Linked DNA regions of Homo sapiens: regions 1 and 2 are each linked to region 3. Evidence: fine-mapped expression QTL. A gene starts in region 3. Each other region holds a variant in brackets. All regions are shown on one strand. Distances are from middle to middle. Region 1 overlaps POLR2A (RNA polymerase II subunit A). Region 2 holds the start of LOC124903913 (a long non-coding RNA gene). Region 3 holds the start of VAMP2 (vesicle associated membrane protein 2).

Region 1 (8,177 bases), 650 kb before region 3:
TGAGGCCGGGTGCAGTGGCTTATGCCTGTAATCCCAGCACTTTGGGAGGCCGAGGTGGGCAGATCACCTGAGGTCAGGAGTTCAAGACCAGCCTTACCAACAGGAAGAAACCCCACCTTTACTAAAAATACAAAATTAGCAGGGTATAGTGGCACATGCCTGTAATCCCAGCTACTCTGGAGGCTGAGACAGGAGAATCACCTGAACCCGGGGATGGAGGTTGCGGTGACCCGAGATTGCACCATTGCACTCCAGCCTGGGCAACAAGAGTGAGACTGTATCAAAAAAAAAAAAAAAAAACCCTAAATGAAAGACCTCTCATATTCATGGATTGGAAGACTTAATATTGTTGAATATTAATATTGTTAATATACTTCCCAAAATAAGCTATAGATCCAATATAATCCCTATCAAAATTCCAACTGGCTTTTTCTCAGAAATTTATTAAGCTGATGTTAAAATTCATATGGAAATGCAAGGGATATAGAATAGCCAAAACAATATTTAAAAGTAGCAAAAGTTTGGAGAACTCACATTCCTGATTTCACAACTTACTACAGAGCTACAGTAAACAAGACTGTGCTTCTGTCATGAGGATACGTATAAAGACTGATAGAGTAGAATTGAGAGTCCAGAAATAAACCCTCACATTTATGGTCACTTGATTTTTTGCAAGAGTCCCAATTTAATTAAATGGGGTGAGAATACTCTTTTTAGCAAATGGTGCTAGGGCAACTAGATATCCACATGCAAGAGAATGAAGTTGGATTCCTACCTCATACCATGTACAAAAACTCTCAAAATGCCTAAATTGAAGAGCTAACACTATAAAACTCTTATAAGGAAACTTGAATAAATCTTCATGACTGTGGCTTAGCAGTGAATTCTTAGGTATGACACCAAAAGCATAAGCATCCAAAGGAAAAAATAGATGAATTGGACTTCATCAAAATTTAAAACTTAATGCTTCGTAGGACACTATCAAGAAAGTAAAAAGATAACACAGAGAATGGGAGAAAATATTTGGAAATCATCTGATAAGGGCCATACATAAAGAATATATAAAGGACTATAACAATAAAAAGTCAACAATAAAAAGTCTCAAAGGATTTCAACAAATGTTTCCTGGCTGGGCGTGGTGGCTCACGCCTGTAATCCTAACACTTTGGGAGGCTGAGGCGGGTGGATCACCTGAGGTTGGGAGTTTGAGACCAGCCTGATCAACATGGAGAAACCCCGTCTGTACTAAAAATACAAAATTAGCCGGGCATGTCGGCACATGCCTGTAATCCCAGTTACTCGGGAGGCTGAGGCAGGAGAATCGCTTGAACCTGGGAGGTGGAGGTTGCGATCAGCCGAGATAGTGCCATTGCACTCCAGCGTGGGCAACAAGAGTGAGACTCTGTCTCAAAAATAGTAATAAAATAAAAAAACAGGCTGGGCGCAGTGGCTCACGCCTGTAATCCCAGCACTTTGGGAGGCCGAGGCGGGCAGATCACGAGGTCAGGAGATTGAGACCATCCTGGCTAAGACGGTGAAACCCCGTCTCTACTAAAAAATACATAAATAAATAAATAAATAATAAAAAAAACATGTTTCCCCAAAGAAGAGTACTATTCATGTAAATGATCAGTAAGTGCATGAAAAGATACTCAACATCATTAGCCATCAGGGAAATGCAAATGAAACCAGAGTGATGTGCCACTTCACATGCACTAGGATGACTGTAATCCAAAACACAGATAATAACAAGTGTTGACAAGGATGTGGAAAAATTAGAACCCTCATACATTGCTAGTAGAAAAGGTACAACTGCTTTAGGAAGTTAAAGCAGTTACCATATGGCCCAGCAGTTTCGTTCCTAGAGAGATTATACACACACACACGAGAGAACAGAAAACATATGGCCACACAAACATTTATACACAAATGTTCGTATCAGTGTTACAGTAGCTAAGCAGTGAAAACAAGTGTCCATCCACTGATGAATGGATAGGCAAAATGTGATATGTCCATATGAGGGAACATCATTCAGCAATAAAAAGTAATGAACAGGCTGGGCCTACGTGGTGGCTCACGCCTGTAATCCCAGCACTTTGGGAGGCCAAGGCAGGTAGATGACTTGAGTTCCAGACCAGCAGCCTGCCCAACATGGTGAAACCCCCAACTCTACCAAAAATAGAAAAATTAAGTGTGGTGCTACATGCTTGCTATCCCAGCTACTTCGGAGGGTAAGGCAGGAGGATCACTTGAACCCAGGCAGCAGAGGTTGCAGTGAGCTGAGACTGCACCACCGCACTCCAGCCTGGGCGACAGAGGGAGACCATCTCAAAAAAAAAAAAGTAACGGACAGCCAAGCACAGTGGCTGATGTCTGTAATCCTAGCACTTTGGGAGGCTGAGGTGGGAAGATTGCTTGAGCCCAGAAGTTCAAGACCACCCTTGGGCAACATGACAAAACCCCATCTCTACAAAAAATTTAGCCAGGTGTGGTGGAGTGCACCTGTAATCCCAGCTACTTGGGAGGCTGAGGTGGGAGGATACCTGAGGCCAGGAGGTTGAAGCTGCAATAGTGAGCTGAGATCATGCTACTGTACTTCAGCCTGGGCAACAGAGTGAGACTCTATCTCAAAAAAAAAAAATCTGTCAAGCCACAAAAAGACAGTGATAAGCCAGATGCACTGGCTCATAACTCTAATCTCAACACTTTGGGAGGCCGAGGCAGGAGGCTCACGAGAGCCCAGGAGTTTGAGACCAGCCTGGGCAGCATAACGAAATTCTGTCTTTGCCAGTGATGAACCTTAAATGTATACTTGCTTAATGGAAGAAATTAGTCTGAAAAAGTTAGATACTGTGATTCCAGTTAAGTTTAATTTCGTATGTGACTATCTCATAACACATACGGGGAGCTTCCTATTTAGCTAACTGTTATAAAATGAATATTTACGGAGTAATTTTAACATAGGTTTAGAAATTTGGATCTTGGCCGGGCGAAGAGGCCCACACCTGTAATCCCAGCACTTTGGGAGGCCAAGGCGGGTGGATCACCTGAGGTCGGGAGTTTGAGACCAGCCTAACCAACATGGTGAAACCCCGTCTCTACTAAAGATACAAAAAAATATTAGCTGGGTGTGGTGGCACGCGTCTGTAATTCCAGCTACTTGGGAGGCTGAGGCAGGAGAATCGCTTGAACCTGGGAGGCAGAAGTTGCAGTGAGCCGAGATCGTGCCATTGCACTCCAGCCTAGGCGACGGTGAGACTCCGTCTCGAAAAAATTTGGATCTCAGATGGTATAGTAGCTTTCTTTGGATGTGCTGCATACCAGGTGCCAAATGGCGTCCTATAAATGGAAGCTCTTGTGTGAGGAAGGGGATGATCAAATAAGAGTTTTGTTTTTGTTAAGAGTCTGTCTGCCTTTTCCGAACTCATCTACCCATGTCCTTTAAGATTACAGTCCTGGCCCTGTGATAAGCCAGATGCAGATCCACATCGTACTCATTCACTGAAAGAGAGGCGTTGGCTTTGTCTGATGCTAGCTTTTTCTTAGGCGCATCCCGGGGAAATGGTGGGGGCTCTGGCTGCGCAGTCCCTTGGAGAACCTGCCACCCAGATGACCTTGAATACCTTCCACTATGCTGGTGTGTCTGCCAAGAATGTGACGCTGGGTGTGCCCCGACTTAAGGAGCTCATCAACATTTCCAAGAAGCCAAAGACTCCTTCGCTTACTGTCTTCCTGTTGGGCCAGTCCGCTCGAGATGCTGAGAGAGCCAAGGTAGGGATCAGGACTGCTGGGCTTTTTGGCCGGAAGAAAAGAAGGAGAACTCAACTGGGTATGGTGGCTCATGTCTGTAATCCCAGCACTTTGGGAGGCCAAGGCAGGTGGATCACCTGAGGTCAGGAGTTCAAGACTAACCTGGCCAAGGTGGTGAAACCCCATCTCTACTAAAAATAGAAAAATTAGCCGGGCATGGTCGTGTGTGCCTGTAATCCCAGCTGCTAGTTGGGGCTGAGACAGGAGAATCGCTTGAACCTGGGGGGCAGAGGTTGCAGTGAGCCGAGATTGTGCCACTGCACTCCAGCCTGGGCAACAAGAGCGAGATTCCATCTGAAAGAAAAAAAGAAAAAAAAGGAGAACTTTTCCCCTTGAATAAAGGGTTTTGGATTCCCTTGATAAGGAGGGTTAGAAGAGACGTTTAGAGCTACTCAGTTCCCTGTGTCATGGACTTCTGTCTCTTCCCAGGATATTCTGTGCCGTCTGGAGCATACAACGTTGAGGAAGGTGACTGCCAACACAGCCATCTACTATGACCCCAACCCCCAGAGCACGGTGGTGGCAGAGGATCAGGAATGGGTGAATGTCTACTATGAAATGCCTGACTTTGATGTGGCCCGAATCTCCCCCTGGCTGTTGCGGGTGGAGCTGGATCGGAAGCACATGACTGACCGGAAGCTCACCATGGAGCAGATTGCTGAAAAGATCAATGCTGGTAAGCCTAGGAGGGCTGGCCTGGCTCAGGAGCCC[C/T]GCTCTCTGGGCTACCACCTATCGTGTTCACCGCACTTGAGCCCCCAAAGAGCTACCCACCCTCACCCCCATGCATGTACCAGTTCCGCCCCTCCGAGGCATCCTCCAACTCTCCAGGTCCCCTCTGCACTCCCTTTCTCTTCTGAATGTTCTCCCTTCCCCTTTCCAGGGGGTTCTATGAAAAGAAAGTTTCTGTGAGGAGCGGGGAGCCAAAAGAGAGCCTTGCTCAGAGAGAGCTGCGAGTGGACAGTGGCTGGGGCCAGTCCCCTTAGCTGCAGCCTTTCTCATGGCTCCTCACCCCACCAGGTTTTGGTGACGACTTGAACTGCATCTTTAATGATGACAATGCAGAGAAGCTGGTGCTCCGTATTCGCATCATGAACAGCGATGAGAACAAGATGCAAGAGGTAATGGGGGTCCTAGAAGTCAGCGTGTCACATGTATAAAACGCATGAATCACGTTAGAGACCAAAGAAAAGAAGATGCAATCAACATTGAGGGGCGGCCAGGCGCGGTGGCTCACGCCTGTAATCCCAGCACTTTGGGAGGCTGAGGCGGGTGGATCACCTGAGCTCAGGAGTTCGAGACCAGCCTGACCAACATGGAGTAACCCCGTCTCTACTAAAAATAAAAATTAGCCGGGCATGGTGGTATGTGCCTGTAATCCTAGCTACTTGGGAGGCTGAGGCAACAAGAGTGAAACTATCTCAAAAAATAAAAAAAACATTGAGGGGCCAGTCATACCCACCTAATTTAGGGATAGGGAATGGTGATTAGCAACGATTTTCAAAATCCACAGCACCGGCCGAGTAGATAAAACAGGTGGTGTTGAAATAGGAGATAGGAGTGCCTCCCTGTCACGCTGTCACTTGGCTCTCCTCCCCCAAGGCTCCTGCAGCTTGCTTTGCTTAGGGAATACAAGCCCCACCCCTGAGGCAGGGGCCAGACTTGGGGGCAGGTTGGGCAGTAGGCATTGCTATGTCCTAGGGGAAGTCGTGTGACAGCCATAACAAGACCCATGAAAAGGCTGGATCAGTGACTTCACTCCTGGGCATGGCTCCTGAGATACTTGTTTGGCACATGTTGGTACCTGGTGCTTTAGTAATAAAAACTGAAGAACTCAGGCTGGGCATGGTGGCTCACACTTGTAATCCCAGCACTTTGGGAGGCCAAGGCGGGCAGATTACCTGAGGTCGGGAGTTCGAGACCAGCCTGACCGACATGGAGAAACCCCGTCTCTACTAAAAATACAAAATGAGCCGGGCGTGGTGGCGCATGCCTGTAATCTCAGTTACTCAGGAGGCTGAGGCAGGAGAAATGCTTGAACATGGGAGGCAGAGGTTGTGGTGAGGCAAGATCACACCATTGCACTCCAGCCTGGGCAATAAGCGAAACTCCATCTCTAAAAAAACAAAAACAAAAAACTGAAGAACTCACTAACTGCTGAACTGCTGTCAGAGAACAGTTATAAAAGCATTGATAGGTCTTGATGGAATACAGTATATGGCCATTAGAAGTGATCACTGTCATGCCAGCAGCAGCCTAGATGAACACACAGTGAAGTGCCAGAGCAGGGAATGGTGTGTGCTCGGGTACAGCAGTTGGGAGGATATGACATGTACGTGGAGCCCGCCTCTCGCTAGGCGCAGGACTGCACAAGAGTGGAAGTTGTGACGGGGTGGTGGGATTTGGGTGCCTTTCCTTAGGCTTCTTTTAATATTGTAAAATCAGGATTAAAAGTCTCACTGGAGAATTGCAGGAACATGGGAGGTAGAGGTTGCAGTGAGCTGAGATCGTGGCATTGCACTCCAGCCCAGGCTGATAACAGCGAGACTCCACCTCAAAAAAAAAAAAAAAAAAGTCTCACTGGAACTGTGAGGGGCAGAGCCTGGTGACTGACTCGTTTGGCCCTCAAAGAGGCTGTAGTTGGAGGCGAGAGCTGGGGAAGAGACCAGAGGATGCCAAGTGCTGACCTCACTCTCACTGCAGGAGGAAGAGGTGGTGGACAAGATGGATGATGATGTCTTCCTGCGCTGCATCGAGTCCAACATGCTGACAGATATGACCCTGCAGGGCATCGAGCAGATCAGCAAGGTCAGCCATCCCCTCTGCCACCGCCTTCCTCCTCCCACTCCCACACTCCCCTCCCTGCCTACTCTGAGCACGCTGTCTTCCCACAGGTGTACATGCACTTGCCACAGACAGACAACAAGAAGAAGATCATCATCACGGAGGATGGGGAATTCAAGGCCCTGCAGGAGTGGATCCTGGAGACGGACGGCGTGAGCTTGATGCGGGTGCTGAGTGAGAAGGACGTGGACCCCGTACGCACCACGTCCAATGACATTGTGGAGATCTTCACGGTGAGCCCGTGTGTGCTGCCTAGCTGCCTTTCGTGGATCTCTGGCTCTCAGGCCCCTCATTCTGTGCTGTCCACTCAGGACTTTTTCTGCCTGATTCCATTTCTGAGTGTGGGATATCCTGGCTCCTGACACCCTCCCTGGATCTGGGTGGCGACAGAAGCAGGGAAGAGAGCAGAGTTGCTCAGTCCTGGCCCTCCCCTCCACTTCCCTCCCCTGTGCCAGGTGCTGGGCATTGAAGCCGTGCGGAAGGCCCTGGAGCGGGAGCTGTACCACGTCATCTCCTTTGATGGCTCCTATGTCAATTACCGACACTTGGCTCTCTTGTGTGATACCATGACCTGTCGTGGCCACTTGATGGCCATCACCCGACACGGAGTCAACCGCCAGGACACAGGACCACTCATGAAGTGTTCCTTTGAGGAAACGGTAACAGTGGAATTTCTGAATAGGGCAGAAGGAGGGAGTAGTGTGAGAAGAAGGGCACACACTTTGGGCAGCTGGGCTGTGGTGATGGGACAGTCAGGTGCTGTGTGTGGAGGGGTCTCATGGGGCCGGTCTGCTCTGTTCAGGTGGACGTGCTTATGGAAGCAGCCGCACACGGTGAGAGTGACCCCATGAAGGGGGTCTCTGAGAATATCATGCTGGGCCAGCTGGCTCCGGCCGGCACTGGCTGCTTTGACCTCCTGCTTGATGCAGAGAAGTGCAAGTATGGCATGGAGATCCCCACCAATATCCCCGGCCTGGGGGCTGCTGGACGTGAGTATGAGGCCCCAGCTGCGGTACCTGCTTGCGTCGGCGAGGCGGGGGGGCAGGCCATGGGTGCAAGGGTGTCACCAGTCCATGATTGCTGTTCTTGCTCCTCACGATTTCCTGTGTTCCTCTTTGCAGCCACCGGCATGTTCTTTGGTTCAGCACCCAGTCCCATGGGTGGAATCTCTCCTGCCATGACACCTTGGAACCAGGGTGCAACCCCTGCCTATGGCGCCTGGTCCCCCAGTGTTGGTGAGTAACCTGATCCAGGAAGAGGGCCCTCCAGGTGGTTCAGAGGTGGATAAGCTGGGATCGTGAACGGTAGCCATTGTTGGAACTCTGAAGGCCGCAGAGGGCTAGTGAAAGGTGGGGCAGGGAGAATTGGGGGCCTTTGGTCTCCCGCTCTGGCCTTAACTTGCTTCTCTCACTCTATAGGGAGTGGAATGACCCCAGGGGCAGCCGGCTTCTCTCCCAGTGCTGCGTCAGATGCCAGCGGCTTCAGCCCAGGTTACTCCCCTGCCTGGTCTCCCACACCGGGCTCCC
Region 2 (8,177 bases), 36 kb after region 3:
TTCAAGATCAGCCTGGCCAACATGGCAAAAGCCCTGTCTCTACAAAAAGTACAAAAATTAGCTGGGAAGCCGGGCGTGGTGGCTCACACATGTAATCCCAGCACTTTGGGAGGACGAGGTGCGCAGATCACCTGAGGTTAACAGTGCCAGACCAGCCTGACTAACATGGTGAAACCCCGTCTCTACTAAAAATACAAAAATTAGACGCGCATATTGGCGGGTGCCTGTAATCCCAGCTACTCGGGAGGCTGAGGCAGGAGAATCGCTTGAACCAGGGAGGCAGAGGTTGCAGTGAGCCAAGGTCGCTCCATTGCACTCCAGCCTGGGTGACAGAACATTTCATCTCAAAAAAAAAAAAAAATAGCTGGGCATGGTGATGTGTGCCCATAGTCCCAGCTACTCGGGAAGCTGAAGCACGAGAATTGCTTGAACCCAGGAGGCAGAGGTTGAAGTGAGCCAAGGTCGCTCCATTGCACTCCAGCCCGGGCGACAGAACATTTCATCTCAAAAAAAAAAAAAAAAATAGCTGGGCATGGTGATGTGTGCCCATAGTCCCAGCTACTCGGGAAGCTGAAGCACGAGAATTGCTTGAACCCAGGAGGCAGAGGTTGAAGTGAGCTAAGATCACACCACTGCACTCCAGCCTGGGCAACAGAATGAAACGCTGTCTCCAAAAAAAAAAAAAAAAAAAAAATTCAGAGTCTATAAATTTTTATTGGAACACAGCTATGTTCATTCACTTATGTATTGTCTTTTTTTTGTGTGTTGTATTGTTGTTGTTTTTTGAGACACAGTCTTGCTCTGTTGCCCGGGCTGGAGTGCAGTGGCACCATCTCAGCTCACTGCAACCTCCGCCTCCCGGGTTCAAGCGATTCTCTGCCTCAGCCTCCTGAGTATCTGGGACTACAGGCATATGCCACCACACCCGGCTAATTTTTTTATCTTTAGTAGAGACAGGGTTTCACCTTGTTGGCCAGGCTGGTCTCAAACTCCTGACCTAAGATGATCTGCCCAAAGTGCTAGCATTACAGGCATCAGCCACAGTGCCTGGCCTCCAACAGCATTTTATTTTATTTTGTTTTATTTATTTATTTATTTTGAGACGAAGTCTCACTCTGTCGCCCAGGCTGGAGTGCAGTGGCATGATCTCGGCTCACTGCAAGCTCTGCCTCCCGGGTTCATGCCATTCTCCTGCCTCAGCCTCCCCAGTAGCTGGGACTACAGGCGCCCGCCACCATGCCCGGCTAATTATTTGTATTTTTAGAAGAAACGGGGTTTCACCGTGTTAGCCAGGATGGTCTCGATCTCCTGACCTCGTGATCCACCTCGCCCCACCTGGCCCGCCTCAGCCTCCCAAAGTGCTGGGATTACAGGCGTGAGCCACTGCGCCCAGCCCCCAACAGCATTTTAAAATATTATTTTTAGAAAGTAAAAATTTCTATGTAAGGGCCAGGCACGGTGGCTCACATCTGTAATCCCAACACTTTGGGAAGCCGAGGCCGGTGGATCACCTGAGGTGAGGAGTTAGAGACCATTCTGGCCAACATGGTGAAACCCTGTCTCTACTAAAAATATAAAAATTAGCTGGGTGTGGTGGCGCATGCCTGTAATCCCAGCTACTCGGGAGGCTAAGGCAGGAGAATCACTTGAACCTGGGAGGTGGAGGTTGCAGTGAACGGAGATCATGCCATTGCACTCCAGCCTGGGCAACAAGAGTGAGACTCCATCTCAAAACAAACAAACGAAACAAAACAAAACAAAACAAGATGTCTATGTATATTAATGCAATTGGGAACAGCCCATGTTATACGTAAGAAATGACTGTTATTTCCATCTTAAAGACTCACAAAAGGCCAGGCGCAGTGGCTGGCTGGGTGCCGTGGCTCACGCCTGTAATCCCAGCACTTTGGGAGGCCGAGGCAGGTGGATCACTTGAGGTCAGGAGTTCAAGGCTGGTCTGGATAACATGGTGAAACCCTGTCTCTATTAGAATCGCTTCAACCCAGGAGGCGGAGGTTGCAGTGAGCTGAGACAGCGCCACCACACTCCAGCCTGGGTGACAGAGTCTGTCTCAAAAAAAAAGACTCACAAAAATACAAAAATAACTTGGCCAAGGTCACATGGCTAATAAGCAATGGTGAAGGAATTCAAAGTGAGACATGCTGACTCAAAGTGAAAGCTCGATCATCCACAGGTCTCACCCCTCCATAGGCCACAGTAGGGGTGGGGGTCAGATTACCCACCCTCAATGTTGCCAGTGCCCACATTACTTCACAGAAGTAGAGAGAAGTTATCTGCCGACCTATCAGGGGAACAAGCAAGGCTGGATATCTTTTCTGCTTTCTTTTTTTGGCATCATCCATTCAGTGGGAAGGTAAGGTGATCATCAAGTCCCAAAAATGAACAAATGCCCCAGTCAGCTATGCTCAGCATTTAGAAGAATGTCAACTAGGACAGTTTTCTCCCCATACCCCAGGGCATCAGCCCTTGTATTGTCTGTAGGGCTTGTTGAGTGGGATGGGGGTGGAATGCAGGTTTTATGTGGCATGTAGAATTATGCCATGGTTTTACATTACATTTGGGGATGGCTCTTGCTCTGGATACTTGGAATTTTCACGTGTGAGGAGATGATGTCTTTGTTTTCTTTTCTTTTTTTTTTTTGAGATGGAGTTTCCCTCTTGTTGCCCAGGCTGGAGTGCAATGGCCCAATCTTGCTTCACTGCAACCTCCACTCCCGGGGTTCAAGAGATTCTTCTGCTTCATTCTCCCAAGTAGCTGGGATTACATGCACCCGCCACCACGCCCGGCTAATTTTTTTTTTTTTTTTTTTTTTTTGTATTTTTAGTACAGATGGGATTTCACCATGTTGGCCAGGCTGGTCTTGAACCCCAGACCTCAGGTGATCCACCCGCCTCGGCCTCCCAAAGTGCTGGGATGACAGGCATGAGCTGCCGCGCCCAGCCGAGGTCAGAGCTTTAGTGATGGAAGTGGAAGAGCAGTTACAGAGGAGCATCCATTGGTGGGGAAGGACCAGAACTCTTAGGGAAGGGCTTCTGAACCCCTCAGAACCACCTGGGGAGTTAAAAGCGACATGGATGCTCCAGCCTCAACCCAGATCAATGAAATCTGAATTTGTTAGGGCAAGGCCTGGGAGTTTTTTGTTTTTTGGTTTTTTTTTTTTTGAGACGGAATCTCGCTCTGTCGCCCAGGCTAGAGTGCAGTGGCACGATCTCAGCTCACTGCAAGCTC[C/T]GCCTCCTGGGTTCATGCCACTCTCCTGCCCCAGCCTCCTGAGTAGCTGGGACTACAGGCACCCACCACCACGCCCAGGTAATTTTTTTTTGTATTTTTGGTAGAGACAGGGTTTCACCGTGTTAGCCAGGATGGTCTTGATCTCCTGACCTCGTGATCCGCCCGCCTCAGCCTCCCAAAGTGCTGGGATTACAGGCGTAAGCCACCGCGCCCGGTCTCCTATTTTCTTTTTAAGTCCTTCAGATGTTTCTAATGTGCAGCCATTGTTGATAACCCCTGAAGATAGGACCTTGCCAGCCATGATAAGGAGTTTTGATTTTATTGTAAATACACCGAAAAACCAAAGGAGGGTTTTGAACAGAGGAATGATATGCTCTGACTTTGACTGTTGGGGGAATGGACTCTAGGAGGCAGGAACAGAAGAAGCAGAGAGAATAGTTAGGAGGTTGTTATCACCCAAGCCAGAAAGGATGGTGACTTGAACCAGCATGAGAGTGATGGGGTGTGTGTGTAATAAAGGTGGGCCTCTCCATGGATTTGGTTGGCAATAGGAAGAGTTGGAAGATCTGGGGAGGTGAGGAAGAAAAAAGAGAGAAACCAGGAATGATTTCTAGGTTTTTGACCCAAGTAACTGGGTGCTAAATGATAGTGCTATTGACTGAGATGGGGAAGTTACAACTTTTTTGATTGGGTGGGCACTGAATTAAGAATACTATTTTAGGCCAGGCGTGGTTGCTCCCGCCTGTAATCCCTGCACTTTGGGAGGCCAAGGTCGGGGGATCACCTGAGGTCAGGAGTTCGAGATCAGCTTGGCCAACATGATGAAACCCCCGTCTCTACTAAAAATACAAAAAAAAAAAATTAGCTGGGCATGGTGGCGTGTGCCTGTAATCCCAGCTACTCAGGAGGCTGAGGGAGGAGAATCGCTTGAACCCGGGAGGCAGAGGTTGCAGTGAGCCGAGATCATGCCACAGCACTCCAGCCTGGGCAACAGAGCAAAACTCTGTCTAAAAAAAAAAAAAAGTACTATTTTAGGCATGCTTACTTTGAGAAGCCTATTAGATTGCCAAGAATGTGTTAGTCTCAAGCTTGATAGGGACGTCAAGGTGAGAAATACAAATGTGGGAGTCGTATTTAAAACCACGGGCTGGGCCGGGCACAGTGGCTCACGCCTGTAATTCCAGCACTTTGAGAGGCTGAGGCGGGTGGATCACCTGAGGTCAGGAGTTCAAGATCACCCTGGCCAACATGGTGAAACCCCTACTGAAAATATAAAAATTAGCTAGGCACAGTGGCACGCGCCTGTAATCCCAGCTACTCGGGAGGCTGAGGCAGGAGAATTGCTTGAACCCGGAGGGCGGAGGTTGCAGTGAGCTGAGACTGTGCGACCGCACTCCAGCTTGGGTGACAGAGCGACTCCATCTCAAAAATAAAATAAAAATAAAACCATGGGTTTGGCACAGTGGCTCAAGCCTATAATCCCAGCACTTTGGGAGGCCGAGGTGGGAGGATCGCTTGAGCCCAGGAGTTCAACACCAGCCTTGGCAACATAATAAGACCCCATCTCTACAAGAGAAAAAAAAATTACCCGGGTGTGGTGGTGTGCACCTGTGGTTCCAGCTGCTCCAGAGGCTGAGGCAGGAGGATTGCTTGAGCCCACAAGTTCAAGGCTGCAGTGAGCTGTGATCACACCACTGCACTTGAGCCTGGATGACAGAGTGAGACCCTGTCTCAAAAAAAAAAAAGAAAAAGAAAGAAAGTCGCAGCCAAAGATTTCATATTTGATACCCAGATTCTTGTGTTCCTGGAAACCAAAGTTTCCAGTATCTGAGAAGTTAAGAAAAAATAATTCATACTCCCATACCTTTGGACCTTTCTCCAGGATTTCTTCTGCCTTGGCCCCTGGAACTGTGCAGTCAACAGTAATCTTTTCATTTCTCCTGAAAACAAAAGATCTGACAGTGCATCTAGTTTTGGAAAACACAGGGGTCTGGCCTGTGAGTTGCTCCAACACCTTGGCTGCCTGTGTCAGTCTGTCGTCACTCTTCTCCACACAGATATTGAGGCAGAGCTTACAGATATAAAGTTGGCCTGAGCCAAACTCCCTGGCCTATTTTTTTTTTTTTTTTTGGATGCTAGATGTTTGCATGGTGATGAGACTTATCCAGCCAAAAAAAAAAAAAGGATATATAGATATAGATATAGATATAGATATGTGTGTGTATACACACACACATATATATATATATATAAATGGTAGAAAAGCGAAAGGGGACAATTACTGGAATGAAGTTGTTGAATAGTAGGAGGCCTGGGTTCAGAGTATATCTGGAGGGGCTCCCTGACAGGACTTGAGAAGGGGAAAGACAGATAATAGGTGAACAGAGGTAACTTGGGGCAATTGGTGATTGGAATGTACAAGACCCCTGTTTGGTTCTGCTGTTTCTCAGAGAAGAGGGGGTATCACTAGTGTGGGAGCTGTGGGGAGCTTTGGTGTTTTCGGGAGTAGAAAAGCCAATATATTGGGGATGCTTTGTAATGTTAGAGTAGGTAGACATGAAGGCAGGAAAGAGGGCCTCCAGGTATGCTGGGCATTTGTCAAGCCATGGTCAAGCGATTAGAAATCTGTCCCTCTGACATAATGAGCACGAGAAGGGAAGAACCCCCAAGCTGGTTCTCATCGAGTGAAGGACCGGCAGGCATACAACCATCCGTCTGAGATAATAAGTGGCCATCGCTGGTGCTGGGAGTAAGAGGAGTCTTGCAACAGGAGTTAGCAAGCCATCACCCCTATAAGGTTTTAAGTATGTGCAGTGAAAAAAGAAAATGGTTGAATTTGATCGGTATCTAACCTTCCTGTGGGGGCTCTGGACCAGAAAGGGCGAATTGCCCCTAACGAGCATGCGCTGGACTTCGGTGAACACTGCGCATGCGGTCCCTCCCAAACGCCGGCAGGCCACTGCGCATGCGGCAATTAAGCCACAGCCCGCTCAAGGGAAGAACATAAGGAGGAGACAGAGAGTGCGGGAAAACGTAGGGGGTGTAAAATCTCTAAACATGCCGGGCGCGGTGGCTCACGCCTGTAATCCCAGCACTTTGGGAGGCAGAGGCGGGAGGATCACGAGATCAGGAAATCGAGACCATCCTGGCTAACACAGTGAAACCCCATCTCTACTAAAAATACAAAAAATTAGCCGGGCGTGGTGGCGGGCGCCTGTAGTCCCAGCTGCTCGGGAGGCTGAGACAGGAGAATAGCCTGAACCCAGGAGGCGGAGCTTGCAGTGAGCCGAGATTGTGCCACGGCACTGCAGCCTGGGCGACAGAGCGAGACTCCGTCTCAAAACAAAAAACAAAAAACTCTAAACAAAGAAAAGGAAGGGGCGCTTGATTTTTCAAGTCTCCAGCCTTGTCCTCTTCTAAGTGTACTGTCTTGTAATAAACTCTCACTTGGCTTAAAATCAGTTCTCCCTTCTGCCTTAAACCTTGCCTTTGGCCGGGTGCGGTGGCTCACGGCTGTAATCCCAACACTTTGGGAGGCCGAGGAGGGGGCGGATCACGAGGTCAGGAGTTCGAGACCAGCGTGGGCAATATGGTGAAACTTCGTCTCTACTAAAAATACAAAAATTAGCCGGGCGTGGTGGCGCGTGCCTGTAATCCCAGCTACTCGGGAGGCTGAAGCAGGAGGATCGCTTGAACCCAGGAGGCGGAGGTTGCAGTGAGTCGAGATCGCGCCATTGCATTCCAGCCTGGGCAACAGAGCAAGATTCCGTCTTGAGAAAAAGCAAAAACCTTGCCTTTATCTCGTTTGAATTCTTGCCCTCGAGAAAACAGAGGAGAGAGGTTGCTGCAGAGTTGCAACTCCGGAGTTTCCCGGATAGCTGCAGGCTTACCCGCAGGTAACAGTAGAAGTAGGAGTCAGCGTTAAGGCTGTGGGAAAATAGGTGTCCTTCATTATTGCCGGTGGGAGTGTAAACTGTCCACCACTTAGAGGGGCATTTTTGGTGATATCTATAGACCGTTTACCTGCGTGTACCCAGCATTACCACGTCTTTCTCTAGATGCTGGTACTCTCCATTGCCATGTCTTTCTTCAGATGTCCCCTAGAGGACAACTAGAGACCATCACAAAGGTGCACAGGAGGCACTCAAAAGACACTGGCCACAGTGCAAAGCATTGGAAATAATCTGCATGTGCATCCAGTAGAAGAGCTTTAAAAAAAACCCTAGGGATATCCTTATTAAAAATTATAGGCTGAAAGGCCGGGCGCGGTGGCTCACGCCTGTAATCCCAGCACTTTGGGAGGCCGAGGCGGGCGGATCCCGAGGTCAGGAGATCGGGACCATCTTGGCTAACATGGTGAAAACCCCGTCTCTACTAAAAAATACAAAAAAAAAAAAAAAAATTAGCTGGGCGTGGTGGTGGGCGCCTGTAGTCCCAGCTACTCGGGAGGCTGAGGCAGCAGAATGGCGTGAACCCAGGAGGCAGAGCTTGCAGTAAGCCGCGATCGTGCCACTGCACTCCAGCCTCGGTGACAGAAGACTCTGTCTCAAAAAAAAAAAAAAAAGAAAGAAAGAAAATTACAGGATGGGTGAAGTGGCTCATGCCTGTAATCCCAGCACTTTGGGAGACCCAGACGGGTGGATCACTGGAGGTCAGGAGTTTGAGACCAGCCTGGCCAACATGGTGAAACCCATCTCTACTAAAAATACAAAAATTATCTGGGCGTGGTGGCACATGCCTGTAATCCCAGCTACTCGGGAGGCTGAGGCAGGAGAATCGCTTGATCCTGGGAGGTGGAGGTTGCAGTGAGCTGAGATTGTGCCACTGCACTCCAGCATGAGTGACAAAGCAAAACTCCGTCTCAAAAAATAAAAAATAAATAAGCACCCCGCCCATTTCTTTCTCCCTAGAGATAGCCAGTTCCAAGT
Region 3 (8,171 bases):
CAGGTGCCCGCCACCATCCCCGGCTAATTTTTTGTGTGTATTTTTAGTAGAGATGTGGTTTCACTGTGTTGGCCAGGCTGGTCTTGAACTCCTGACCTCGTGATCCGCCCACCTCGGCCTCCCAAAGGGCTGGGATTACTGGCGTGAGCCACCGCGGCCGGCCACTCATTGTTGAAGCACCTGGGAACAGGGATACTAAGATGCCACATCGGGGCCTCCTGGACCTACAGGCTGTGGCAGTTCAGTGTGGGGTCTAAAGTCACAAGTCATACAACAGAGTACAGGGGTAGTAGGCCATCTACAGGCAGCTCCACAACATACTCAGCTTTGTCTCTGTGAGCCTATTTAAACCACAATTTACTAACCCCATCTGGGCGCTGGCACTGGGTTAGGCACAGAGGGGAAGACATGCTTCACAGAAATGGCCAACTACTTCATCTACTGCTGCACGGGAGCCACGGCAGAGCGTCTAGAAGTTAAATCGAGGAGTAGAAAGGAGTCCAACAGCAGGAACATGCCCCAGTAAAGGGAAACGAAAGCTGGGAACCCTAGACCACAGGGCGCACCGGGCTTAGAGACACGGGCTGGCTATGACACTTCCCATTACCAACTCCTAGTGCCCCCCTGTGGCCACTTTGAGAATCACACTTTGCCCTGCCCAAGGTCAGGGCCTCTTGCAAAGTCCAGTCCATTACCAATGTATCTTCTCAACCTTCCTGGTATACCTTCCGATCCAATATTATTCCCATTGGTTAAGAAAAGATCTTATTCTCCCCCAACCAAAAAAAAAAAATAGAAAAATAAAAAAGATCTTAGACAACACCTGGTTACTCATTACACATTTATTGTACATTTTCACAATCTGGATGCGCCACAGAATTGGGGGCATGGGGTGGGGGAAGAGGGGGGCAGGGGACACTGGGATAATATGGGGGGTCTAAAACACAGCACCCCCACCTCCAGCATCTCTCCTACCCTTTCACACCACAGCTTAGATATCCCTGCTCCCCCTCCACACAGAAAACCAGAAGTGTGGGGGGAAGAAAGTTTGGGGGCCCCCTCCCGTGGCAGGTTAAGGGACTGTACCCTCAAACCCTTAAAATTGTGCCATTTAAAAAGACAATAGACCCTTCCTCAATCAGTTCACCCAATGAGAGGACAGCTCTCTCTGGGCTCAATAGTCCTGGAGAGGGGCAAGCATCCCCGTTTTCCAGCAAGTCCCATACACACATTGGCAGTGACTAGTACCCCCACCCTAAATTCAGGGGGGGCAGTCAGAGGAGCTGGGCAGTGATGGGGCAACACCCCCCAAATTGGGGAGGAGGGTTTTCAGTCCAACCCCCAGCAGGGGTGAGGCCAGAGATTTCAGGCAGGAATTGGGGGGATTCTCTGCCCTGCCCCACTCCTCCCCAAGGCAGTGATGACCCCCACACACACACTGGTAGCCACCCCTCTCACAAGAGATCAATTGTGGCCAACCCCCAACTCTCCTGGTGGGAGGAGGAGGTGGATCAGGCAGATGGGAGGGAAACCCCATGGGAATGTCAGTTGAGTACCCCACATGAAAACTGGGGAGCAGGAATGTAGGGAGAAACCCGAAGTGGCAGAATTATTGGTCCATCATAACATACTGAACTTCAAGACACTTACATACCAGCTGGGGGAGGGAGAGGAGGGTACAAGAGGTTTGGAAAATGAGGGTAAGGGAGGCAAACTGGACTAGAGGGGCTAGGAGGAGGCAATGCTGGGGACCAGAGCAGCCTGGTTCCCCAAAAGCCCAGGCTCCCCACCACCTGCGAGTAATGTCGTGCAAATGAAAATGTGATACAAGAACTAATGGGGACTAACTCCTCAGTAAAAAAAGAAACACAGGTTGAGAGAAGAGTGATGGAACAAAAAGAAATGGAAAGGGATAGCAGTATGTAATGATACGCTAATTAACATGCTGGACGCTCCCAAAGACCTTGGGATTCTTAGGACCAAGTGGGGCCAGTCTCAGAGCCTCCCAATGGATACAAAGAAGATGTACCTAAGGAAGCCTGGACAGGTGCTGTTGTTTTTTTTTTTTTTTTTTTTTTTTTGAGGGCGGGGCAGAGGGAGCATGACGGGGAGAGTGAGGAGGAAAGAGGAAAGGAAGGCCAGGGTGGGAGGAAGGATCAGCTAAATCTGAGGGAAGAAGAAGGAAAGGAGAGGGACTATTGCATAGCAGATGCAAATGAAGGGACTTGGGGCTAGTCAGGAAGAAAGGGAAAGGGAAGGAAGGCAAGAGAGAGGGGTGAAGGGAACCTCAGGAAGGGGTGTTAAGGACAACCGGAAAAATCATCTAGTAATAAAACTACAAACAGACCAAATATATATAATATTATATATGTATAAATAACAGCTGGCTATTTACAGGGGGACACACACACGGACACACACACACACGGATCCAGGGGAGTGGGGGCTGAAAGATATGGCTGAGAGGTGGAGGAACGGCTGAGGGTTGGGGGAGAGGCCCTTCTCTAGGCAGGGCAGACTCCTCGGGGATTTAAGTGCTGAAGTAAACTGTGGAGAGAGGGGAAGAAGATGAGGAAGAGGGAGAGGGGAGAGAAAGAGAGAGAACAAGAAAGCAGTGTGTCAGGCCTGGCCCTGCTCCAATCCTCCCCACTCCCCAGCTGGCTGACACCCTCTCTTGGACTCAGTTTTTCCATCTACAAAGCAAGGGGCTAGACAGGTAGGTTCTGAGGTCCCTTCCGCTCCATGGTATGGCCTTGAAGCCACAGACCCTAATCCTCTGAGCCTCTGAGACCGCAAGCTCTCAAATAATGGGGTGGTTGGCTTCCTGGTCATGTCTCAAGCCCCTGGTCCTTTCCTTTCTCCCACTCCTCAATTCCAGGGTTCTCAGACTGGGCTCTTAGGCCTAAAGGGTCCTCAATGGATACACCAGCTTTCCTATTTCCAAATGTTAACAAGACTGCCAAGAACTAGGCAAAATGCAGGCTAAATAACATCAAAGTTTTTGGCTCTAGATGAATCAGAATTGCCATTAGCAGCTATATGTGTTTTTGGCTGAAGAGTAAAAACTAGATTAATGACCTTCAAAACCTAGAATCCACTGGGGAAACCTCTCCAGGGAAAGGGCCCCGGCCATTCTCACCCTACTCACCTATGATGATGATGAGGATGATGGCGCAAATCACTCCCAAGATGATCATCATCTGGGGGTGAGAGGCGAGGATCAGTAAGACAAACTATGATACCCCATTCACCCACCTGTCCTCCTTCCTGTCCCCACCCTTACCTTGAGGTTTTTCCACCAGTATTTGCGCTTGAGCTTGGCTGCGCTTGTTTCAAACTGGGAGGCCCCCGCCTGGAGTGCATCTGCACGGTCGTCCAGCTCCGACAGCTTCTGGTCTCGCTCCAGGACCTTGTCCACGTTCACCCTCATGATGTCCACCACCTGGGAGAAGGGCCCACGAGGCAGGGGGGTGTGCCAAGGCCCACCTCAGTGAGGGCAATCCTCAAACATGTGCCCACCGTGCCACACATGGAACATGCACCCTGATACTGCCAGGTTAACATGCCAAGGACACACAGAACATGCCTAGCACACCTGGGGACATGCAAGGAGCACACATCAGGGGCATGCTGGTGACATCTCAGATGTCATAGCAACACCCTCCCTCTATGGAACCTCAGGCGCTCTGTCCATCACCAGAGCACACCTGCCCAGGCTGGCACACCCCAGGCTAGCAAAGCTGATTAACACCCCCAGCGCCCTTCCAAGTGCGTGCTGACAGGGAGACAGGGATGGGGCATGGTATCTTTGTCCGCAAACCCACAGGCGTGAACTGTCATCACTCCCAAACCAACATGGGCCCCTACACCTATACGCCAACCCCCAGGGTCCCTCCTACTGCTTTTGACTCCCCCCACACTCACCTCATCCACCTGGGCCTGGGTCTGCTGCAGTCTCCTGTTACTGGTGAGGTTTGGAGGGGGTGCAGGGGGACCACCCTCCCCAGCCGGGGCAGCAGGGGGGGCCGTGGCAGCGGTAGCAGACCTGAGGAGCAGGGACGGATTAAGACCCAGGGCCTGCAGCCTCCCGGCCCCGCAGCCAGGGCTCCGCCCATCCACCTGTCCATCCTCGTCCCTCCAGTCCTCCTTTTCGGGAGGAAGGCCACCCGATGTAAGCCCTGGTCTCGGTCCAGCCCTGCCGCCGATGAGCTGCGTGACCTTGAGCGAGGCCCCCCCGGCCTCAGTTTCCCCGCCTGTCAACTGAGGGCGACCTCACAGATGCGATCCGGGTCGACCCGAAAAGACAGGCGGCCGCGGTGACAGGGGCGGGGAGGGGCAGGAGGACACTGGGTCCGCTCCTTCCCGCGGCCATCGCCCGAGCCGGCCAGCCCGGGACGCGGGGCTCCTCGGCCGCCCGCGCGCAGTCACCGGCTTGGGCCTGGCCCCGGGGCGCGGGGAACGCAGGAGAGACCCCGGGCACTCCCGACGGCCGGTTGCCAAGGGCGGCGGCCGGCGCAGGGAAGCGCGGTGAGGGTGGCGGGCGGCCGACTCACATGGCGGGGGCAGCGGGTGGAGGACTTGGCAGCGGCAGTGATGGCGGCGGCGGCTCGCGCTGGCTCCGACTGGCGCTGGCTGCCCGGGACGGAAAGATGGCGGCCGCGCGTCACCCGCATCCGGGCACTGCGGGCGGGGGCGGGGCGCCGCGGGAGACGCGTCGCGAGCGGGGCCGCGGGGGCGGGGCGCTGCGGGGCGCTGCGGGGCGGGGGTCGTGCCGGGCAGGACCACGGGCCCCGCGCCACCATGCCCCGGCAGCTCCCTCGGCACTCGCGGGACCCCAAGGCGGGCTGCTGCGGCTTCCCCAAACCCACCGCCACCCCACCCTGTCTGACCACAGCCCCCCCAAACCGCCTGCCGCCTGCCCCTTAGAGCACAACGCAGCCTGGCCCTACACCTAACCCCCAGACCACTCCCTCAATCGTGAACCCAGTAAACCAGCCTGCACCCCACACAGCCCAAGGTCTTGCCCCGCGCCCAGGTCCCAGCACCTAGCGACCCGCCTTCAGCACTTGGAATGGGCTGGAGTTGGGAAATCAGAGAGGGCCAGTGCAGGTGCTGGGGCAGTATCGAGAGCGGGGACCTTACTGCTAGGGTGGAGAGGAGTGGGGGAGATTGGTCCCAACCCATCACCGCTGGTGGATGTCTCAGAGGAAGCCTGGGGTCCCTGGCCACTGGGTAGGAGGGTAGGAAGAAAAGATGAGGCAGGCTCTTCCCGCCCAAACAAGTCCAGGGGGCGGAGGACGGGGGAGTGTCTACAGGGTGTGGGGAGGGGGCTGCCCCGCCTCACGATTAAGGTTCAGACTAGGGGTACTTAACCGCTGGAGCAGGCCCGACTGAGGTGGGGTGAGCTGAGGACCCCGAGGAGGAGGGCACAAGGCTGCCGGGGGTGATGGGGGCAGGGGCTGCTTCACGTGGTGGCTGCTGACTGGCCAAGACCTAGCTTTGCCCCAGGCTTAGGTCAGCGACCCGACTGCAGGAAAGGGCTCAGGCTTTGGTCCCAGGCACAGGGCCTGGGCCAAAAAAAAAAAAAAAGCCTTTTTTCTTTTTCTCTCATTTTTTTTTCTTTAGTAGTAGGCACAGTGGGCACAGGTTACAAGGTGCTGCTTTACATGCGTATTCGCCTCGCAGGTGTGACCTTGGACCGTTGCCCTCCTCTCTCTGGACCCCAAATACATTGCATATGTAGGTACTAAATCCATATTTGTTAAATGGCTTGATGTGGATAACATAGGAGATTATCCCTGGCTGGTCTCCATTAGGCCCTCTAAGCACACCCAGCAGCTGTATACACTCCCACCCAGCTTGTCAGAGAAGATGGGACCAGGGGAGCTGTCGCTCTGGTGGAGTGCAGGGGGTCAAAGCAAGCCTCAAGGGTGCAGGAGGCATTTTAGGCGAGGCCCTTTGGCCCTGGGGTGGGGGTGCTTACTACATCCCTGGAAGGTGCAGGGAGGCTGATGGCCTTGATCTCTAAGACAAACAGGAACCAGCTTCCTCCCTCCCCCACCCTGGCTTCCCAGGGCCTCCGGGTGTGAGATCCTCCCCCACTGCAGTGCCCCACCCGCTCCCCACAGAAGCCCGGAGAGTGGCTCTGTCACCAGAGGTGTCATTTCCCAGCTGTCTGTGGGAGGTGAGTGAGCAGGGAATGTGTGTGCTGGGTGTGGGAACTCAGCCCAATCTAAGAGAAGATACTCTTGGCTTCCTCCCCCTCAGAGGAGCAGCCGCGTCCCTGGTCCTTGTGCACTGACAGTCCCGGGTGGCTCAGCCTATGTGATGAGAAAGAAAAGAGCAGCTTCCACGGGGGTCTCAGATCATGCTGTGAGATGCTGGCTCCTGCTTTTTGGTCTTCAAATGATTCCTCTTTCTAGTCAGAGAACAAAGATGCCAAATTCCAGCCTTTTAAGTTCAAAACCCTCAGTGTCTGTCAGGGTATAAATAAGACATGGAGGATTGGAAGAGGCAGGCACAGGAAGCCCTTCCGCCCCCAGTTGGACACCCTGCACTAACTGAGGGGAGCCTAGTGCAGAGCCAGACAAGACATTTGATGCTGGTTTGGGGGTGATGTGGAAGGGACAGAGCCCCAGATACACGGTCAAGGCCAGGGGTCGTGCTATTGCTATTGGATCGTGGGGACGGCAGCAGCAGAGTAGAAATGAGGGCATGTGTGACCCACGGAGATGAAGGGCCCAGGAGGATTCATCTCAGAAAGAGGACTCTCATCCAGCAGCCCCTTCCCACCCCACCCCACCTAGGCTGTGGCTCAGAGGAACTCCCCAAATTTAGATCAATGGTGGAGGTGGGAGAAGGAGTGGGATGACGGAGTTCACCTGGAAGTGACTGAGAGAATGTTTTCTGCAGGCAGGTAGAATGGAGACCCAAATAGAGGTAAGTTGAACAATAGAAAAATAATGTATTTGCATAACTCAGATTTGGCTTCTACATGTACTGGCTTCGGGAATTGGCCAATGATTTTCTAGGGCACACCCCCAAGACTCATTCAAAGGATGTAGGACTCAAGGTGATGGTGATGTAGGCAACAGAGACCACACTTTCTTTTTCTTTTTTTTTTCTTTTTTTTTCTTTTTTGAGACAGAGTCTCTGTCTGTCACCCAGGCTGGAGTGCAATGGCGCGATCTCTGCTCACTGCAAACTCCGCCTCCCAGGTTCACGCCATTCTCCTCCCTCAGCCTCCCGAGTAGCTGGGACTACAGGCGCCCACCACCCGGCCCGGCTAATTTTTTGTATTTTTAGTAGAGACAGGGTTTCACCGTGTTAGCCAGGGTGGTCTTGATCTCCTGACCCCGTGATCCGCCCGCCTTGGCCTTCCGAAGTGCTGAGATTACAGGCTTGAGCCACCGCGCCTGGCCGAGACCACACTTTCATAAACGCTTTCTTTTATTTTTTATTTTTATTATTATTTATTTATTTATATTTAAGATGGAGTTTCGCTCTTCTTGCCCAGGCTGGAGTGCAATGGTGCGATCTCGGCTCACTGCAACCTCCACCTCCCGGGTTCAAGTGATTCTCCTGCCTCAGACTCCCAAGTGGCTGGGATTACAGGAGTGCACCACCACGCCCGGCTAATCGTTTTGTACTTTTAGTAGAGACGGGATTTCACCATGTTGGCCAGGCTGGTCTCGAACTCCTGACCTCAGGTGACCCACCCACCGTGGCCTCCCAAAGTGCTGGGATTACAGGCGTGAGCCACCATGCCCGGCCTTATTTCGTAATTTTTTTTTCTCTTCAGACAATTACTGGTTTAGAAGTCGGCCGGGGCTGCAGTGCAGTGGCGTGATCTCGGCTCACTGCAACCTCTGCCTCCTGGGTTCAAGAGATTCTCCTGCCTCAGGCTCCCGAGTCCCTGGGATTACAGGCGTCCGCCACCATGCCTGGCTAATTTTTCTATTTTTAGTAAAGACAGGGTTGCGCCATGTTGGCCAGGCTGGTCTCAAACTCCTGACTTCAGGTGATCTGCCCACTTTGGCCTCCCGAAGTTCTGGGATTACAGGTGTGAGCCACTGTGCCCGGCCTTTTTAATTATTTTTTTTGAGGCAGTCTCCCTCTGTCACCCAAGCTGGAGTGCAGTGGCACAAGCTTGGCTCACTACAACCTCTGCT

The links. PIP is the estimated chance that this variant, and not a neighbour inherited with it, causes the effect. A credible set is the group of variants that fine-mapping cannot tell apart.
Region 1: its variant is the best candidate, but not a certain one, in a credible set for the expression of VAMP2 in spinal cord (GTEx, PIP 0.77).
Region 2: its variant is the best candidate, but not a certain one, in a credible set for the expression of VAMP2 in whole blood (TOPMed, PIP 0.83).

Annotation. Positions count from the first base shown.
Region 1 is chr17:7,504,705-7,512,881 of GRCh38, forward strand. It overlaps POLR2A (RNA polymerase II subunit A), which reads left to right. Exons shown (of 30, transcript NM_000937.5): 20 at 3,547-3,771; 21 at 4,240-4,486; 22 at 4,828-4,928; 23 at 6,511-6,615; 24 at 6,702-6,884; 25 at 7,107-7,310; 26 at 7,454-7,640; 27 at 7,773-7,886; 28 at 8,070-8,177. Among named protein-coding and RNA genes, the nearest start is that of POLR2A, 24 kb to the left of the region's middle. RefSeq lists an enhancer at 6,563-7,762. The variant C/T (reference allele first, on the strand shown) is at 4,522.
Region 2 is chr17:8,194,100-8,202,276 of GRCh38, forward strand. LOC124903913 (a long non-coding RNA gene) reads right to left here and starts at 6,129. Exons shown (of 2, transcript XR_007065604.1): 1 at 5,114-6,129. RefSeq lists enhancers at 1,928-2,237, 5,837-6,326. The variant C/T (reference allele first, on the strand shown) is at 3,250.
Region 3 is chr17:8,158,325-8,166,495 of GRCh38, forward strand. VAMP2 (vesicle associated membrane protein 2) reads right to left here and starts at 4,624. Exons shown (of 5, transcript NM_014232.3): 1 at 4,554-4,624; 2 at 3,925-4,045; 3 at 3,284-3,442; 4 at 3,149-3,200; 5 at 825-2,547. The coding sequence starts at 4,555. The coding sequence ends at 2,531. RefSeq lists enhancers at 322-561, 3,792-3,841 and silencers at 682-731, 3,952-4,061, 4,352-4,541, 4,702-4,801, 4,932-4,991.